2 linked regions of the Homo sapiens genome follow. The protein of the gene in region 1 interacts with the protein of each later gene in a pairwise test. Each region holds a gene or a part of one and is shown in the gene's direction. Other genes may lie near its edges.

Evidence for each region.
Region 2: the proteins of ZNRF1 (region 1) and UBXN7 interact in binary tests that used the Homo sapiens proteins (3 or more experiments, as listed by UniProt).

Annotation. Positions count from the first base shown.
Region 1 is NC_000016.10:75,092,884-75,100,155, forward strand, and holds part of ZNRF1 (E3 ubiquitin-protein ligase ZNRF1), read left to right. Parts: intron 1-688; coding exon 689-784; intron 785-7,272. UniProt on the Homo sapiens protein: E3 ubiquitin-protein ligase that plays a role in different processes including cell differentiation, receptor recycling or regulation of inflammation. Mediates the ubiquitination of AKT1 and GLUL, thereby playing a role in neuron cells differentiation.
Region 2 is NC_000003.12:196,366,226-196,373,497, reverse strand, and holds part of UBXN7 (UBX domain-containing protein 7), read left to right. Parts: intron 1-1,455; coding exon 1,456-1,602; intron 1,603-3,986; coding exon 3,987-4,077; intron 4,078-5,342; coding exon 5,343-5,470; intron 5,471-7,272. UniProt on the Homo sapiens protein: Ubiquitin-binding adapter that links a subset of NEDD8-associated cullin ring ligases (CRLs) to the segregase VCP/p97, to regulate turnover of their ubiquitination substrates.

The DNA of each region.
Region 1 (7,272 bases):
AAGAATGTTAAACTGTTATGCAAAGGCTGTTTCCAGGTGCCTTGGTTTGATGCCTCCCTACCCCATTGTCCACCAGACCCATCTGAGAAAGGGTCTAAAGAAGATAAAACTCAAGTCAGGTGTCAGTGACCTTGGTTAAACCTTAACGAGGCACATAAGGCAGGGTGAGCCCTAGTGAAAGCTGGCAGTCAGTCAAAGGCTGCAATAAAAGGCAAATGCCACCGGGCGCGGTGGCTCATGCCTGTAATCTCAGAACTTTGGGAGGCCGAGGCGGGTGAATCACCTGATGTCAGGAGTTCAAGACTAGCCTGGCCACCATAGTGAAACCCCCTCTCTACTAAAAATACAAAAATTAGCCAGGCGTCATGGCAGACACCTGTAATCCCAGCTACTTGGAAGGCTGAGGCAGGAGAATCGCTTGAACCCGGGATGCAGAGGTTGCAGTGAACTGAGATCGTGCCACTGCACTCCAGCCTGGGCGACAGAGTGAGACTTCGTCTCAAAAAAAAAAAAAAAAAAGGCAGATGCTCAAATGAGTCCTTGAAGGAGGACAGGTCCAGGGTCTGTTCTGATGGTCATCCTCCACATTGACCCTGAGCCCACATGGCTGTCATTCGAGAGTGTCCACATGTACTGTGGATGTACTGGATCTGGAGAAAACATTTCATCCCATTCTCCTCTCTTTCAGGTTTCAAGTGCCCCATTTGCTCCAAGTCTGTGGCTTCTGACGAGATGGAAATGCACTTTATAATGTGTTTGAGCAAACCTCGCCTCTCCTACAACGGTAAGGGCTTGGCCTGCCTCACCAGCCTCCAGAGCATCCGTCGGGGGAGCCGGCCAGTCCTTGTGGGAGCCTCCAGTCGAGGGTGGTTCTGGGCAGTATTTTCACCCTGCCCTCTGGCAGGTGTGCCTCAGTGGTGGTGAGGAAGTGGACTGTTCTGGGAGCCTTGCTGCTCAGGTCAGAGAGGAAGAGGAGTGGGACAAGGAAGGAAGGCCCAGGGGTCAGGTCCGAGGTCTGGGAAGGCTCTCGGGCTGCTCAGTTAGGCCCCTGCCTCTCTGCAACTCAGTTCTGAGGACTTTGGCTGGGAGATGCAGCCTTTCCTTCACCCTTGACTGTGGAAGGCCCCAAGACAGCCAGGTGTCCTCCACGGCTTAGCAGAGGGGCCCAGAGCAAGCACCCGCCCTCCTTGGGGAGGTGGGGGCTGTGTGCTGGTGGCATGCATAGAGTGCTGGGAAGCTGGTCGTCTCCTTGTCACGTTCGAACTCGGACGAACACCTGATTTAGTCCTATGAGTCCACACCAGAGAGCTTGACGGGGGACTATGTGTGACATAGAGACGCTCTGGGGATTGAAAATGCGGATAGGACACCTTGCTGCTCCACCCTGGCCATGTTGCCTCCTACCTTGGAGGCTGCCTCAGAGCCGAACAGTGAATACCGCAGAGGGTAGGACCCTGAGGGCAGGGGATTTCAAAACACCCAAGCTAACCTAACAGGACGCCTCTGGGAAACAAAATGACTGTCAACATCTGCCTAGCATGCTGTGCATAAGGCTTTGGAGTCCAGGTGATGGGAGTTCAAATCTCCCTCTACCACTCTGTGTCTACAATCTTATACAAGTTGCTCAGCTTAGCGGAGCCTCAGTTTTCTGCTCTGTAAAATGTGGATAGCAATACTTGGTTCATAGGATTGTCAGAACTGGGTAAGAGATGGCACATAAAGGCCTTTGGTACAGAGCCTGGCACATGGTCAGTGCTTGGGAAGTTACAGCTGCCATGAAAGATGTGAGACCTTCATAGGTTTCTTTTTGCAGTTTTCCAGAGCCCACAGACTTCTCCTCAGTGCTGCTCAGCCCACGCCACTGCTGACCCTCGATTTTCCATGCTTAGTGTTTAGTCTGGTCTCCAAACCATGTTCATCAGAAAACGGCATCTTCCACTAGACCAGGCAGTGGATCTGAGTGCACTCCAACCCTGGTACTGGCCCACCTTCCCAGATTCAAGTCATAGTAGTGGTTGGAAAAAGAGTTCTGGGATTTCTGAGAGCATCTGAGGACTGGATCACGCAACCAGCCCAGCGAGAATGTTTCCTAGGGAGACTCTTCTCTGCCCTGCAGCCTCCTCACTCCCAGAGGGCTCTTTCCCCTACAAAGCATGAGCCTAGGAGGGATCATGGTCTCAGAGCATTTCCTGGGAAGTAACTGACTAATGGCGTCCACTCAGGTCTCCTGAAAACTTCTCTCTTAATTACTTGTTCAGCCAAAAGACTCTGGATGCAGGTGGGCATATTACCCACGTGGCTCAGCTCCATGCATTTGTTAGGCCATGCTCAGGTGGGAGGACCCGCACGGCCCTCCCCTGGGCATCATAGCTGTGGTCTGGGAAGCCCCTTTCCTCCCCAGGGGACAACGCCTCCTTTCTCCTGGGCTGACTGCTGCCAGTTCTCTAAGTCTGTTGTCACATGTGCTGCAGGCTTCGCGTCAGTCCTGTCGCATGCATGCTGTCAGGACGCTCAGGCTCAGCTTTGTCCCTGTTCGCCGTCTCCGCTTGGGACCAGGGAGGGAGAGGAGCCTTCCCTGCGTCTCACAGCCCTCCCTAGCCATGGCCTCAAAAACCCTATTCACTTCTTTCCCACATGTGTGGAGACCTCATGAAGTCCTCCGTTTGTCCTGTGGGTTGCTAGGGCGTTCTCTGTAGACACTGCGTTTGTTGTAGGAAGAATACAAAGAAGCCTCAGAGGGGCTCAGCCTGAGAAAACCTGGCTCTCAGGAAGAACTTTGCAAGAGCAGCCGTGGAGGACAGAGTGCTCTTGGGCCCCCATGGCCCAAATGCAGAGTTACCCCCACTGCCCTGTGGAGAACCGGGAAGGTGAGGCTGTCCAGCTCCTCTGCCAGAGAACTGCCTGGGACGCCACCATGTGTCCCCCTGTCCCCCTCTGTATCAGCACTTGAGTGCCTGGCGCTGTTGGTTTACCCCCCTACACCCCACCACCGGCAGCCTCACCCAAGACTACAGAAACCACACCGGGAGCCGGGCCCCCCTTAGAGGAAGGGGAGATTGGCCAGCCAGCCTGAGGCATGACCACTGCTCCTCTGGTTCTGGTTCTAGTTTTTCCCTTGTCATGGAATTGAGGGGCAGGCCACCTCCTCAAGGGTGCATGTGTTTCTGTATGTGTGCACGTGTGTGTGTGTGTGTGTGTGTGTGTGTGTGTGTGTGTGTAAACTAGAGGCTTTACACCTAAGGCTCTCTTTTGCAAAAGCCAGTCCTTTACCACTGGAGGCAAAGAGAGGCCAGTTGTCTCCAGTCCTTCCAGTGGACTTTGTCTCAACGTGGTGAAGTGCTTTGTTCAGAAACAATGGTCCGGCCCTCTGTGGACCCTGTTCATGTGGTATGGACTCCTCATGTTCAGTCTTTGTCTTTTCTGAAGACCCTAAACCTTCCAGGTAAGAGGAGAGCATTTGCTTCCGGGGGTGTATGTGGAGTGGGCATCCCCAGGCACGCCCAGGGCCTGCTCCAGCTCAGAGAGAGCACAGACCGTGGGCCAAAGCTCAGGAGCTCCAATGTATTCCCCATGATTTGTCATCATCCCAACCTCACCTGCTGCATGTTACCTTTTCTAATTTAAAAAAAGACTTAAGAGTCAGAGGTGTGAGTTCTTGGAATCTTTCTGGAAAGGGGGCGAGGCGGGGCTTTCTTAGTGAAGAGTTTTCTTATGAAGATTCACTAGAACTCCTGGTCACTCCCCTGAAGACTTCCCATTTACACACACACTTTCTGTGGTTGTTGGCACCAATTGCGGAAATTTTTAGAAAATTTATGATGGTTATATAAGATGAAATTTAGTTAACCACTAAAGGAAAAAAGTAGAAACCTCCTAAATGAGGCAGATAGAAAGTAGTATTTTTCTTATTATGAGGGTTGGCCTGAGTGGTGGGTTGGAAGGCCTCCAGTAGCTGCCTGCTAGCTTAGAAAAAACACAACTTAGGAAAGGCGAGACTAGTTTAACTGGTTCAGCTAGTGCCTGGTGCTCCGAGGACAGGCACCTGGCTGGGGAAGTTTGGGAATGTGCTGAGCCCCTGCTGGAGGGGCAGGGAAGGGCGGTTGACTCCAGAGCACCGAATGTTAAACCCCCTGTCCTCCTAAGCGCCTTCCTGGAAGGTGAGGATACTGTATAAGAGGGAGGGGGTTCGTTGGTTTGTTTTTGTGGGTAAGATGGATCAACCCGAATGGGCCTTTTAATTTCTCTCCCTTTCTAACATCTCTGTTTGTGACTCTGAGACTGAGGGACCTTGCCCTAAAGAATACGCATTCAAATTTTGACCCTCGAGTCTCTGGGCTAGCAGAACAAGCGTGGAGGTGGGGGTCTGATTGGTGATGCTCTGAACGGAAGAGCATTGTAATCCTGTGGAGTCGTGGAGATGACCCGCTTTTGACTGGAAGCTTAGGGGTCCTCAGCCCAGGGAGAATCTGGGGGGCGGCAGGTTCATTTGCCAGCAGCACCAAGGAGAGCTCCCCTCAGCTGTGTTCTGGGGGAGCAGAAGCCCATGCTCAGCTTCTTATGTCATGATGCCCTCTTCCTCCCCTCTGCCAAAGGCCATTGCCCCCATCTTTAAGGCTCTTGAGATGCTAAATGTCACACAAGCTGTCTTTTAAAGGCAAGGGAGGCCGGATGCAGTGGCTCACGTCTGTAATCCCAACACTTTGGGGAACCGAGATTGCTTGAGCTCAGGAATTTGAAACCAGCCTGGGCAACATAGTGAGACCCCATTTACTAAAAACAAAAAATTTGTCTGACATGGTGGCAAGCGCCTGTAGTTCCAACTTCTCAGGAGGCTGAGGTGAGAGGATCACTTGAGCCCAGGAGATTGAGGCAGCAGTGAGCTTGATCACGCCACTGCACTCCAGCCTAGGCAACAGAGCTTGACCCTGTCTCAAAAAATAAAATATAAAATAAAAATGTGAGAGGACCTGGCTTCCTGGAAAAGCAGAAATGGCTCCTGCTATAGCCTGCCCTGTGCCTGCAGGCAATTCTTTGTCCCATGTCTCCTCCTCTCAGAGACCCTGTGGTCAGAATGAAAGCACCCTACCCTTTCCCTGCCTGGGGAAACCGGGTGCTGGCCGAGGAGTTTGCCCAGCCTTGCTTGGGGCATTGCCCAGAGCCATTGTTAGATGCTGGATGGGCTGGAGTCAGGCTGGACAGGCTGGAGTCAGACTGCGGAGGTGTCTGTCCTGTTACTCCTCCTACAGGAGGGCGAGGAGGGGCAGGTGACTGCTCACCCAGGGTGTCCAGCTGTTGCTGACCGGCTGCACTGACTGCCAGACTGGCCGCTGCTGGGTGTATGAGGAGCGAAAGCGACTAGGGGAGGCCTGCAAGGCCCTAACACAAGTGGGGAAACCAGGAACAGGTGGCTACAGGAAAGAGGACTGTGGGAGGGAGCTGTAGTGGCCTCAGTAGGAAAGTATGAAGCGCTCCAGGCCTGAGCTTTAGTTGGCTGCCCCCACTATCCTCATTGCGGGTGGCCCAGCTCACCAAAACAATTGCATTGCACTTCAAAGGGCTGGGCAGTTGGATGGGCCGCTGCTGGTAGGCTACACTCTCTGCTCAAGGTCACCCTGTTGCCTGAAGAGCACAGCCCCCCAGATTTCCCAAAAGGGGAGCTGACAAGGCCTGGCATGGGTGGCACTGCCCTGTCCTGTCCCTGGCAGACTGGGCCAGCAGCTCTGCATGCTGAATAGGCAGCAGGACCAGGCACTCCACCGCACCTAGGCTGGAAATGAGGTCAGGGGGTGGAACCTGAGCCTGTGCGTCATTTGCTAGGGGTTTCCCCTCTGACTCCCACCTTCCTTCTCTCTGGGCCCTTCATGGCCACCAGGCACAAGTGGAGATGGAGAGGCATGTTCCTGTGCTCAGCTGCTGCCTCGGAGCTGCACGGGCTTTCCCTCCCAGCCAGGTGCAGATCTGTGTCTGCAGCTGTGTGAGCCTCCCCACCCCTCCATACTTCTAGCAGTTCCAGGGTCTCTTGAGGATGTGTTGCCAGAACTCTGCAGAATACTCGAGCCTGGCATGGTGGAGGGCAGGTGTGTGTCTCTCCTGTCTGGTCTGTTCACTCAGTGACCAGGTTCCTCCATCCACCTTGGGTCCTCTGCACACACTTCACAGAAAGGGGGAGATGCAAAGTGCCTGTGAGACGGGTGGTGTTTTCCAGCCCCAAGGGAAGACACCCTTATGGCCTGGTCTTTTAAGGAAAAGGGGCCAGGTCGCTGGGTGGCAGAAACTTGGGCTTGGGAGTCATCACCACTTAGCAGCTGCATGAGCTTATCCGAAGATCCCCACAGGGGCTTTAGGAGTCATGGTGTGTGTGTCTGAGGAGTTACCTGCATATAGCTGGCTTAGAGAATTAAGGCTCTTTTGCTCCTCCTCCCAGATATCTTTGCTTTGACAAATAGCAGCTGTCAGAAGCACCGTGCCTGGATCCCAGGGAGGGAGCAGAAGATGCCACCGCCTCCCACCCCCAGCCCATCACAGGCATCATCCCTCCCTCCTGTTTCAGCTCCAGGGCCGTGCTCGCCATTCTGGTTTGGTTCCCTGGTCTGGTTAGAGGGACAGGCACTGACACCATCCCCAGCCAGGCCAAACACACTTCCAAGCTCTCCCTTGGGCAGTGACATTGGCTGGCTTTGTACAGTGGCGTCAGGAAACTTGGGAGGTGCTTCAGAGGTAGTAAGAAAAGGGCAGAACCCAGATGGCAGAAAGTTTGGCTTTGTTCTTATCCGGCAGCATTTGTTGAACCTCTTCTCTAGGGGCCTGGAGATACCAGGGGACATTTGACTCCATCTGCAGCAGAGTCTCAGTTTGTGTGGGCCAGGCGCCTGGGTTTTGTGCTGCGAGGCCCCCGCCATGGCTTTTCTCTGACGGCAGGCAGCAGGTTCGTGTCAGATGCTTCTGGAAGTCTTGTAGGAACCAGTTGATAGGCAAGCATCAGCTTCAGCCATTTCCACTTCCCTGCTAGGCTCTCAGGGACATCCGGAGGCCACTAACTCCCACAGCCCCAGGGGTGGGGACAGGAAGTTGTACTCAGCCCACTGCAACCTCTTGCTGGGTTTGTGTGCCTCCTGCCTCCTGCTGTGGAAGAATGCTGCTCCCTGGGCACTGGGCTCTGTGTGGGCACTGCTGGCTTCCCCATGCTGTCTGAGTCAAAGACCCTGACTCCTTCCTATTGCCGGGAACCTCCAGGTGGCCTTTTGCAGCCAGTGGCTCTTGGTCCCAGTGAAA
Region 2 (7,272 bases), on another chromosome or scaffold:
TTATTCCAAAACTGTGGTTTCGTGTCACTGTTCTTTCCTAGGCAAAGATTTGAGGCAGCATTTGCTTATTTGCTTTTCTGCCATTGTTTTCCACTCAGCAGCATTTCATGGGTCTTTATGCTGACAAGGGACTGACAGGCAAAAAGTACGCACTAACGATTGATGTATCGATATCTGTTGTACGAATCGTAGAGTTGTTTGGGGATCATTCTCAAACATTCTTTGACCTTGTAATCCCAATTTTTGGAATCTACTCCTAGGAAGACAACTCTTAAGAGAAAAAACTCTCAGCAGTTTTTACTAAAATGTTTAGGGTGATTCTCCAAAACAGCATATATGCCTAATAACTGAGATTAATATGATGTTTAAAAATGTTCCAGAAATGATGTTGAAGAAAACAAAGTAAAATATACACACCAATTGCATTCATTAAAAAGAAGTATAATTGGCTGGGCGCGGTGGCTCACGCCTATAATCCCAGCACTTTGGGAGGCTGAGATGGGTGCGTCACCTGAGGTCAGGAGTTTGAGACCAGCCTGGCCAACATGGTGAAACCCCGTCTCTTTACTAAAAATATATAAAAAATTAGTCAGGCATGGTGGCACACACCTGTAATCCCAGCTACTCGGTAGGCTAAGGCAGAAGAATCACTTGAACCTAGTAGGTGGAGGTTGTAGTGAGCCGAGATCGTGCCATTGTTCTCCGACTTAGGCAACAAGAGCAAAGCTCGTCTCAAAAAAAAAAAAAATTGTTGATGGAGGTTGCAAGAGAATAAAATTACGTGACTTGTTGATCTTAAGTTTGTTGAATCCTTTTCAGGTAAAGATGTTTAAACATACATTAAAAATTCAGCCATTACCGGTCATGATGAGTCACACCTGTAATTCCAGCACTTTGGGAGGCCAAGGTGGACGGGTCATTTGAGGTCAGAAGTTCGAGACCAGCCTGGCCAACATGTTGATACCCCATCTCTACTAAAAATACAAAAATCAGCCAGGCGTGTTGGGGCACGCCTTTAATCCCAACTACTTGGGAGGCTGCGGCGGGAGAATCACTTGAACTCAGGAGGTGGAGGTTGCAGTGAGCCGAGACTGCCCCACTGTACTCTAGCCTGGGCAATAGAGTTAGACTCTGTCTCAAAAAAAAAAAAAAAAGAAAGAAAGAAAGAAAGGAGAGAGAGAGAGAGAGAGAGAGAGAATCAGCTATTATAACAAATAACTGGATAAAAGAGAAATGAGTTCATTTAAATTTGAGCAGTGCTTGAAATGGACAGTATAGCTATAAATGCATATGCGAAGTAAATATATAGAATGTATAAATGCTGAAAACTCTAGATGTCGTATCTGGCAAAAACTTAGTATTTTTAATGAAAGACAACAACCTCTGAACAACTACGGAAACATCTGTCACTAAGTAGAAATTATTTCTAACAAATGTGTAACTTTACTCTTGCAGGCCAAAGAGTGTGGCCAGATGCAAAATAAGTGGCTGATGATAAACATTCAAAATGTTCAAGACTTTGCATGTCAGTGCCTCAACCGCGATGTGTGGAGCAACGAAGCTGTGAAGAATATTATCCGGGAACATTTCATTTTCTGGCAGGTGAGAAGGAGAGTTAATCAGAAGTTTTGTAGAATTTTACTTTTGTAGTGTGGGTTGTTGAGGGAAAGGAATTGGGTTATAATGAATTAAGACATTTAAAAAAAGGTAAAGCCGGCTGGGGGCAGTAGCTCACGCCTATAATCCCAGCACTTTGGGAGGCTGAGGCCGGCGGATCACCTGAGGTCAGGAGTTTGAGACCAGCCTGGCCAACATGGTGAAACCCTGTCTCTCCTAAAAATACAAAAAATCAGCCAGGTGTGGCAGCAGGCACCTGTAATCCCAGCTACTCGGGAGGCTGAGGCAGGAGAATCACTTGAACCCGGGTAGCGGAGACTGCAGTGAGCCAAGATCACACCATTACACTCCAGCCTGAACAATAGAGCTAGACTCCATCTCAAACAAAACAAAACAAACAAACTGTACTGTTCAGTAGAAATATATTGTAAGCTGTACACATAATTTAAATTTTTCCAGTAGCCACATTAAAAAAGATTAATCAAAATAGATGAAATTAACTGTAATAATGTATTTGGTTAAATCAATATATCTATATAACTAATACAAAAATAATGAGATGATCTGCATTTATTTGGTGTTGAGTCTTCAAGATATGGTTTGTATTTTATACTTACACCCCTTCTCCATTTGGAGTAGCAAGATTTCAGGTGCTTCAGTAGCCACTTGTGGGTAGTGGTTGCTGTATTAGACAGTGCAGGTATAGAAGATCTTGAGGTAATTGGAAGCATTTGGCTAAGACTTAGATTTTAGCTTGAGTTTGATACTTTTTAACTCTGTGTTCTTAGACATGTCACTTTAGTCTTCCCAGCTAATGAGATAAGGTTACAGACCTTGTATCATTTTTCCCCCACTGTGAGACAGGGTTTTGCTCTGTCACCCAGGCTGCAATGCAGTGGCATGAACATGGCTCAGCCTTGACCTCCTGGGCTCAAATGATCCTTCCACCTCAGTTTCTTGAGTAGTTGGGACCACAAACATGCACCACTATGCCCATATAATTTTTTTTTTTTTTTTTTTTTTGTAGAGATGGGGTCCTGCCATATTGCCCAGGCTCGTCTCGAACTCCTGGGCCCAAGCCATCTGCTTCCCTTGGCTTCCCAAAGTGCTGGGATTATAGGCATGAATCACCGTGCCGGCTCAATTTTTTTATTTTTTATTTTGTGAAAAGTTATAGAAAATAAAAACTTATGAAGGAGCTTAATTTTTTCCCCTACTGTAAGATATGCTATTAATGTTATTAATTTGCCTGTTTATATTTTACAGGCCCCTAAATTTAATGTAACTTTAATGGTAAAATTCCTTGTATTTTATTCAACAAATATTGATCGAGCAGCTCTTTGCTTAGCACTGTGCTGGACTCTTGAGCTTATAATCTTTTTTTCTTTCTTTCTTTTCTTTTCTTTTTTCTTTTTTTTTTTAAATAAATGGACAGGGTCTTGCTCTGTCACCCAGGCCGGAACACAGTGGTGCAGTCATAGCTCACTGCAGGCTCTAACCCCTATAGGCTCAAGGGATCTTCCCACCTCAGTCTCCTGAGTTGCTGGGACTATAGGTGCACACCATTAAACCTGGCTAATTTAAAAACAAACAAACAAACAAAAAAAAACAAAAAAACTTCTCGTGGAGATGCCCAGGCTGGTCTCAAACTCCTGGCCTCAAGCTGTCCTCTGCCTCTGCCCTACAAAGTGCTAGGGTTATAGGTGCGAGCCACCATGTGGAGCCATAATCTTTTTTTTTTTTTTTTTTTTTTGAGACAAGTCTTGCATTGTCGCTGGGCAGGAGTGCAGTGGCACGATCTCAGCTCACTGCAGTCTCTGCCTCCCGGGTTCAAGCGATTCCCCTGCTTCAGTCTCCCGAGTAGCTGGGACTACAAGCGCCTGTCACCAGGCCCGGCTAATTTTTGTATTTTAGTAGAGACGGGGTTTCACCATGTTGGCCAGGATGGTCTCAATCTCCTGACCTTGTGATCCACTCGCCTCGGCCTCCTAAAGTGCTGGGATTACAGGCGTGAGCCACCATGCCTGGCCCATAATCTTAATATATTGTGATTTATTAAGATGTATATGGTTGAGAGTTATGAATGACATAGTTGACAGATAACTTGAGCAGGAAGAATAATACCTCATCTGAACTGGGAAAGGAGGAGGAATGGGTCAATATGTTTATGGTAAATTTCCAGAGAGTGCTGGAAGTGGGAAGTTGAAGGAGTTCAAACCAGATTTATTTTCTTTTTAGTGTAGGAGTGAGATCTTAATACATAGGCCGGAGGTATATTTGGAGAGCTAATTGATGTTGGTGTATAAGAAGGTTATAGTTGGTTCTTTTCTTAGAGGCTGACTTTTTTTTTTATATCAATGATTTAACAGGTTTATCATGACAGTGAGGAAGGTCAGAGATACATACAGTTTTATAAGTTAGGGGATTTCCCCTATGTTTCCATATTGGACCCACGGACAGGTAAGATTTATATCAGCACGCAGCTTTTAACCTATTACTTGTCTTTCAGTTACCTAAATGATTGATCTTTAATATTTGACTGGATCTGTTTTCAGAATTGCAGTAATTTAGGTGAAGGTTTCGTTTTTTTCCCTTTATAATTATTTAAACATCTATTGATGTATGTATTTAGGACATCTTTTTCTGGCAACATTGGGAGATGGTAGTATTTTATGTTTGTGCAGTTCTGTTCTTTTGAAGAATAACTGATATGTTCATCTTACCTTTTTTAAGGGATTTTTTAAAAGTTTTTTTACCAGCTGGGCGTGGTGGCTCATGCCTGTAATCCCAGCACTTTGGGAGGCCGAGGTGGGCGGATCATGAGGTCAGGCGATCCAGACCATCCTGGCTAACACGGTGAAACCCCATCTCTACTAAAAATACAAAAAAAATTAGCCGGGCATGGTGGCGGGCACCTGTAGTCCCAGCTGCTTGGGAGGCTGAGGCAGGAGAATGGCCTGAACCCGGGAGGTGGAGGTTGCAGTGAGCCGAGATCGCGCCACTGCACTCCAGCCTGGGCAACAGAGTGAGACTCCATCTCAAAAAAACAAAACAAGACAAAAGTTTTTTTTATCATTAAAATATTAAGATTGCCCAGATACTAGTTGTAATCCCACCTGAGAAGCAGAGGGTGGAGCTGGTTTTATTAATTGATGGTGTTTTATATAGATATTGCTTTGTCTGAATCTCTTCTTCCTAAATGGCAGTAAGTGATAGCAGCAGATAAGATAGTTGCCCTATCATTACGGGTGGGAATCTGTTAGGTGAGTATAATTGATGTGACTTCTAGGTTATGAAGACACTATGTAGCATAAGCTGGTGGAGAGGATATGTCTTTACAGTACACTTTATGCATGTGCTGAAAGAGATACTTAATGAGAATGTTCAGAAAGATCCTAGATATTATATTTACAGATCCTGGTTTTTAATGTATGCATATGCTGAAAGAGATAATGAGAATGTTCAGAAAGATTCTAGATATTACCTTTATAGATCCTGGTTTTTAATCTATGCATATGCTGAAAGAGATACTTAATAAGAATGTTCAGAAAGATTCTAGATATTACCTTTATAGATCCAGGTTTTTAATCTATGCATATGCTGAAAGAGATACTTAATGAGAGTGTTCAGAAGGATTCTAGGTATTATATTTATAGATCCTGGAGAATGTTCAGAAGGATTCTAGATATTATATTTATTTATAGATCTTGGTTTTTAATCCTTAGGTCAGAAGCTAGTAGAATGGCACCAGTTAGATGTATCTTCTTTCTTGGACCAAGTGACGGGATTTCTGGGTGAACATGGACAACTGGATGGACTTTCTAGCAGTCCCCCCAAAAAATGTGCCCGTTCAGTAAGTATAATTAGGAGGTGGTGATGGGAAAATAAATGTAATTGGTCATAAGCATCTTATATAAAATGTTCGATGTTAAGATGGTAAAGATAATCTAACTAGTGGACAACTATCACTGTGGCTATAGCATCTTAGATATCCTCCTTATATTTTGATAATTTCCCACATGAGAGTTCCATCTTCTTGGTGAAATCATGATACTCATACTCCTGCCAGTCTGTCTTGCAGCTAGAGTGCAGGCAGATGCCCCAGGATCTGGATTTAGAAGGAAGCAATGTGAATAGGTTGGGCAGGAGGACTGACCTGGCAAGCCTAGTGGTAAAGGTGTCTACTTCCTGAGGGGCAGCTCTGGGAGGGCTTCTGATATCCAGGTCTAAATAGCAGTGAAAGTGGTTGGTTTTTTTGTGTGTTTTGTTTTTTGTTTTGGAGTGGGATCTTGCTGTTTTGCCCAGACTGTCCTAGAACTCCTGGGCTGAAGCAGCCTTCTCACCTCAACTGCCCGAATAGCTAGGACTACAGGTACATGCCACCACAGCCGGCTGGAAGTGGTGTTTTTTGTTTTTGCTGAAACAACTGTCATGGTATAGTTGAGCATTTTTATTGGTTAATATAGCTTTAGGGCCTGGCTCTCTGGCCCTCCTAGAATTTACTTCTATACTTAATTTCTAGAATATACTATTACTAGGTAGACATGTTTGATAATTGGTATCAAGATTGGTTGCAAATAAGAGACTGAACTTGCAAAGATACAGCAATCTCACATTGGTTTTCATGGCTGTTTGGCTTTGATAGCAGTAGGGATAAAAATAGTTTTGTTTTGTTGGTTTTTTTTTTTTCCTTTTTTTGAGCCAGAGTCTTGTTCTGTTGCTAGGGCTAGAGGGCAGTGGTGTGATCTTGGCTCACTGCAACCTTCGCCTCCTGGGTTCAAGCGATTCTCCTGCCTTGGCCTCCCAAGTAGCTGGGATTACAGACGTACACCACTGCATCTGGCTAATTTTTGTAGTTTTAGTAGAGATGGGGTTTCGCCTTGTTGGGCAGGCTGGTTTCAAACTGCTGACTTCAAGTGATCCGCCCTTCTCGGCCTCCCAAAGTGCTGGGATTACAGGCGTGAGCTAACGCGCCCGTCCTGTTTTTTTCTTTGGGCAGGATCTTGTTCCATTTCTCAGGCTGCAGTGCAGTGGTGTGATCATGGCTCGCTACAGCCTCCACCTCTTGGGCTCAAGCGATCCTTCCACCTCAGCCTCCTAAGTAGCTGGGACCACAGATGTGCATCACCATGCCAGCTAAGCTGTTAAAGTTTTGTAGAGACGGAGGCCTCCGTATGTTGTCTAGGCTGGTCTCAAACTGGCCTCAAGCAATCCTCCCGCCTCAGCCTCCCAAAATGTTGGGATTCTGGGTGTGAGCACCACACCTAGCAACATTTTTATTGTATTGTATTGTATTTATTGTATTGTATTGTATTTTTTGAGATGTGGTCTCACACTGTTGCCCAGGCTGGACTGCAGTGGCATGATATTAACTCACTGTAGTCTTTGCAGCCTTGAGAGAACTTTAAAAAAAAAAAAAACTTGCTAGCCTTGAACTCCTGGGCTCAGTCAATCTTCTTGCCTCAGCCTCCTGAGTAGCTAGGACTACAGGTGTGCACCATCATGCCTGGCTAATTTTTTATTTTTTGTGGAGGCAGGGTCTCAATATGTTACTCAGCCTGATCTCAAACTCCTAAGCTCAAGCAATTCTCCTCCCTTGGCCTCCCGAAGTGCTGGGATTATAAGCATGAACCACCATACCATGCCCAGCCTAAA